2 separate regions of the Homo sapiens genome follow, and region 1 is linked to region 2. The links come from fine-mapping of genetic effects on gene expression. A gene starts in region 2. The other region holds a variant in brackets. All regions are shown on one strand. Distances are between the middles of the regions.

Evidence for each region. PIP is the estimated chance that this variant, and not a neighbour inherited with it, causes the effect.
Region 1: its variant is the best candidate, but not a certain one, in a credible set for the expression of NAT1 in cerebellar hemisphere (GTEx, PIP 0.78).

The regions. Positions count from the first base shown.
Region 1 is chr8:18,497,323-18,500,240 of GRCh38, forward strand. No RefSeq gene overlaps it. Among named protein-coding and RNA genes, the nearest start is that of NAT2, 110 kb to the left of the region's middle. The variant G/C (reference allele first, on the strand shown) is at 1,687.
Region 2 is chr8:18,208,757-18,211,674 of GRCh38, forward strand. It overlaps NAT1 (N-acetyltransferase 1), which reads left to right and starts at 1,353. Exons shown (of 3, transcript NM_000662.8): 1 at 1,353-1,424.

The sequences.
Region 1 (2,918 bases), 290 kb after region 2:
GGCTGTTGGTAAAGTTCCTATTGAACAGAGAATGCAAAATCCTTTATCGTATGGTCATGCAAATTATTACTTCAATACAGAGCATTCAAACAAGTATCAACAAGGCAAAGCTTCCATGACCAATCACATGGAGGGACCTCCAGGTGTCTGGCTGCAGGGCCCCTTGGGGGAGAGGCAAGCATCCAACACGGACACTGATCCATCAATACAAGCCGGGATCACACCTCCTAGGGAAAGTGAAGGTGCTCTGAGCACATTGAGGAGCAGAAAAGCCTAGTCAGAAAAGACTTCCCATGAAACTGGCATTCAAACACATATCTGAAGGATGAGTTACTTGGGGAAGAGAGGGGATCCTTCAGGAAGGGCACAGAATGAGCAAGACTAAGAGGTGGAGAGGTTGTTAGGAGAATAGCAGGATCAAAAAGTATAGCCGTGAAGCTGGACAGAGAGTTGGGGGAGCCCGGTGGGCTCAGTCAAGAATATTTGGTCTTAGGCCAATCACACCTGTAATCCCAGCACTTTGGGAGGCTGAGACAGGAGGATCACTTGAGCCCAGGAGTTCGAGAGCAGACTGGACAATGTAGTAAGATGCTGTCTCTACAAAAAATAAAAAATTAGCCAGGCCTGATGGCAGGCACTTGTAGTCCCGGCTACTCAAGAGACTGAGACGATGATCACTTGAGCTCAGGAGTTCAGGGCTGCAGTGAGCTATGATAGCACCAATGCAATCCAGCCCAGGAACAGAGCAAGACCTTGTCTCAAAAGAAAAAAATAAAAATAAAAAAATGGTCTTTATTCCAAATGCAGTGGGAAGACTTAGAAGGGGAATCACCATCACGTCAGTTTGAACCATATGAAATTGACATTTTTGCTGGTCAAAAATGACCAACGCTGGCAGTTTTATATGGTTCAACCTAATACAGGTTTGAGCATCCCAAATCCAAAAATCTAAAATGTTCCAAAATACAAAACTTTTTCAGGGCGGACATGATGCTCAAAGGAAATGCACGTTGGAACATTTTGGATTTCAGATTTTCAGATCTGAGATGCTCAGCCAGTAAATACAATGACAATACTCCAAAATCTAAAAGTCCAAAGTCCAAAACACTTCTGGTCCCAAGCATTCTGTTCTATCCTCCATCTGTATTTCGAAAAGAGTCTTCAGCCCGACCCTTCCAAGGTTGACTATTTGTTGTTGGTCTTTTAATTCCAAGGTGATTTTCTCATTTCCTTTCACAGGCAAGTCAAGCCTTGGCACCAACAGAGCAGGGAGTGAGAAGTGTGGGGGCCGAGGCCAGATGGGCCCTGCATCCTACTTTCTGGAGCAGCAGCGACACTGTCATCTTGCTCACCTTTCTTCACAGCCTGCAGTGCCCCACGTGGAGGTGTGGGCTCACCAGGGAGGACTCTCACCTCGGACAGCTGATCCCTGTCCCCTGTGCCCAGGGACATTCTTCTTGCCAGGAGTTGATGAGTTCCCAGTGGAGGTGGAGGACTCCTAAGCTTTTCAAGGGATGGGCTCAAGTAATACAATGCCCCCACACACCCAGCCATCGGCGGCCCCTCATTCTCAGCTTTCAGTTGCTTCTGTGTATGCGAGACCAGAATCCAGGTCACAGCTCAACTGGACATCATGGCACTGACATTGTTCATTTTCATTTTGGCAGCACGCACAGAGCTGTTCAA[G/C]AGAAGGTCACAGTGAGATCATATAAACCAAATTTAGCCATCTGGGTACAAGGAGAGACTTAGGTGATTCGTGTCTGATAAGGAAAACCAGACTTTCACAAAGCATCCTTTAGTGGGAGCCTTTTAGAAACCCCAGAGATGACACCTGTCAAACTTCACAGCACACTTGGGCTTGAGGGGACCGGAGAGTGCACAGGCTCCCTGTGTAGATGAGACCCCGAGGAGATGGTGGTAGTTTTCTCATCTTAGACTAACTCCTACATCCCAGAGTCCCAGAGCACTTTATGTTCTCTGGTCACACGTTGAGGGAGGCAGTTTTAAACTAACTGGAGCAGAGGGGCTGGGGAAGGGCTTAGTTCACTTCCACTCATGGTCTGTGCTCACCTTGAAGTCACACCTGGCACTAAACCATTTTTGTAGAATAGGTGCCCCACTCTGCCACACGTTAATCCTGAAACTAAACAAGAGATTTGGTTGAGTATGGTGGCTCACACCTGCAATCCCAGCACTTTGGGAGGCCAAGGTGAGCAGTTCACCTGAGGTCAGGAGTTGAAGACCAGCCTGGCCAACATGGTGAAACCCCATCTCCACTAAAAATACAAAAATTGTCCAGGCATGGTGGCGGGTACCTGTAATCCCAGCTACTTGGGAGGCTGAGGCAGGAGAATTGCTTGAACCTGGGAGGCGGAGGATGCAGTGAGCCGACGTTGCACTACCACACTCCAGCCTGGGCTACAGAGCAAGACTCCATCTCAAAAACATATAAATAAACAAACAAGAGATTTGGCAGGGGTGGGGTGGAAATCAGGAAATCACACACCGGATAGCAAAATCTCACACAACTTTTCTTTCAATATCTCTCCTCATTTCCTGAAGACCCTTCCACCAAAATCTATCCCATTATTTCTTCCCCCTCTCCCACACAGTTCCTCAGATCACCTCCAACTGCCACCGCCCACTCAGCAAGGCAGAAGCCAGACATGTGGCCTCCTCATCTTCATTCTCCATCCTTGGAAGCCACTTAGTGAGGAATTGAGAGAGATGGGGTGGTATGGGATGGGGACAGGGGGAGTTTGATTTATCAAGTATTCACTCTCCAGTATTGGCCTCTTCTTAGAGGAGAGAATTTAAAATGTCCTATATTACTATTATTTCCCATATTATAATATTATTAGTAGTAGGCCAAAGAAAGCAGACTCAAGGAGACAAAAGGACAAAAATTTCAGTGTACA
Region 2 (2,918 bases):
AAGGCCCTTGATTCTAGGCTGGAGGCCACAGAGGGAGCATTTAGACCCCCGCCCCGGGTCAGAGGGAAATCTGCTACCTCAGCAGGAGGAATCCAAGTTCCAGTCCACTTCACAACCACCTAACTAAAGTGGCCTTCCGCCAGACCCTAAAACAAAGATTTGCATTCAGGTAGATTATTTGGAAGATGATTTAAGGACGTACCAGTGCAGGAGTTGTCGCGGGACAGTGAGACCAGGGCAGTTTGACAATCAATAAAGGGTGCATCATTGGCAAGCTACCTGTGAACAAAGGGAGCATAATTCCACTGGACAACACCAGGAGGCAGTGTTATACAAGCCTAAGGGTAATTCCACCTGACCAGGTACAGCACAAAGATATGTGGCCTCCAACTCCCAACATCCTGGGCTGAATAGTGGTCCCAGACCCATAGTTTTCAAGTCTATCTAGCCTGCCTGAGGACATGCCAAGAGAAAGCCTTCGCATAGAGTCCCGAGTTCACGTGGCAGGACGCCAGAGGCATGTTCTAGAACAGTAGGTGCCGAAGGCACAGCACAAGGAAACACTCACTGGTGGAATGTTCTCAAAACAAAGAAATGATAAATGTTTGAAGTGATAGATGTGCTAATTATCATGATTTGATCATTACACAATGTATGTATGTATAAGAACACCACATTGTACCCTGTAAACATGTATATTGGGTCAATAAAGAAACAAAAATTATGTTGTATAGAGAAAAATGCATAAGAAACAGCAAGAGTTGTAGATCAATACCATGAATGTAAATAAAAAACACCAGCATAAACAAAGCCATATGACATATATCACCCTCATACCACACACATGGGGCTCTTTCAGACACATTGCCCAGTGCCTTCAGGTAGAGAGGCCAGTGGGAATGAGGATGATGGATGAAGGGAAGAAAAATTTTTAAAAGAAGTCTAATGGGAACTGATGAAGAAAGTATACCATAAACTTGGAGTGTGATTAAAGCCTTCCATCTTCCTCTTTTGCCTCCTCTAGGTTACCAGTTCTGCTTTTCCTGGACCTGTTCCAAGCTCTCACGTTCCACATCACACATGGGACATCTAGTGTCAGGCTCCCAGAGAGCAGGAACCAGGTGAAATATAAGAGCACAGTCCTCCCAGCCGGTGGCATGGGGATAATCGGACAATACAACTCTCCACCCTTTTTTATGGTAAGATATGAATAAGGGGTCCACAGGAGCAACCTGAGTCCCTGCAACTACATTTCCCAGGGGCCCCTGGGGTAACCCTAATGTGACTCTGGGGGCGGGGCCAGTTGGACATCCAATGAGAGCACTTCCCCTGCAGACTTTGGAAGTGAGAGCACTTCCTCATAGACCTTGGATGTGGGAGGATTGCATTCAGTCTAGTTCCTGGTTGCCGGCTGAAATAACCTGGTAAGTGGAACTCTGTAAGGGGCTTTGAAATTGGGGTTTAATCCTATCTCAACTGTGAGTACAGGAGAGTAGGTTCTACACGATGTCTACATTTCAAGTATAAGGTTGCTCAGAAAGTGTGGCTGGCACATACTTGGAAGCTAATGCTGTCACTACTCCACAGCTTAGTGGTGACAGTTACAGGTCCTTGATTCAAACTGTTGGGTTTACAGTCACAGCCACTTTATAGCTGTGAGAACTTGGCCTAGTCACTTAGTTTCCCTAAAACTCAGTTTCTTTTTCAGTAAAATGGAGCTACGAGTACTGCTTACTTAAAGGACTTGTTGTGAGGATTACATACGTGTATTAAAAGATAACTAATGTGTTTAAGGCAACTTTCTCAACAGGATTTCCCTCTTGGTTACTTGTAACAGTGACGCTCACCCTCCTCTGTCCCCAGTGGTGTGTGTCCCAAAGGACCCAGTTAATCCTACAGGCAGCAAGCTCGTAATAATTCCTGCTCCTCTTGCACTAGCTGATAAAAAGCCCCTAATGATCCTGGATGTCCAGGAAGATTGAATTCTGTTGTTTGCAATGCCTATGGGAATTCCAGAGGGAAGTTTTTGTTTTTTTGAGGCAGAGCCTTGCCCCATTGCCCAGGCTGGAGTGCAGTGGCGTGATCTCAGCTTAGTGCATCCTCCTCCTCCTGAGTTCAAGTGATTCTCCTGCCTCAGCCTCCTGAGTAGCTGTGATTACAGGCACCCGCCACCATGCCTGGCTAATTTTTCTATTTTTAGTAGAGATGGGGTTAATTTTTGTATTTTTAGTAGCGATGGGGTTTCACCGTCTTGGCTAGGCTCATCTCGAACTCCTGACCTCAAGTGATCCACCTGCCTCGGCCTCCCAAAGTGCTGGGATTACAGGCGTGAGCCACCACACTAGGGACGAAGTTTTATTATGGCCGAAGGACACTTACTGGAGAGGGTCTCCAGGAGGTATGAATGACAAAAAAATTTAACTCCTTCACCGTCAGACCGAGAGCATCACCCCCTGAACATGGACTTGCAGAATTCCACAGAAGAGAGGAGACTGGCCTAGACAGACAGCCCCAGGAGCTGAGGGCCCAACAGGCTTTCTACCCTGGATGCTGCTCCCATGCCCTGACATGAGGCCCACTACAATGGTATACTTGTTTGCTCTTTCCTAATTAAGAAACAAACAAACAAAAAATCAGACATACTGTTTGCTCTTGAATGCTTGAAACACAAAACAGGTGACACCACCTTCCTCCTCAAAAGGAACTTTTTAACTGTCAACTTTCTACCTGCACGCTGCCCAGAGACTTATTTTGTCTGGCCCTTGCTGTCTTCAGCAGTAGCAGCTGTTTTTCTTTAGATTTGCTTTTCTGGCCTGGTGCAAGTAACCCCCACCACCTGCCTGGCCCCAGTCGGCATTAAATGGGAGCAGTGAGTGGCCTTCTGGACAAGAACAACTGTTGAATGATGGTCTTTGGGT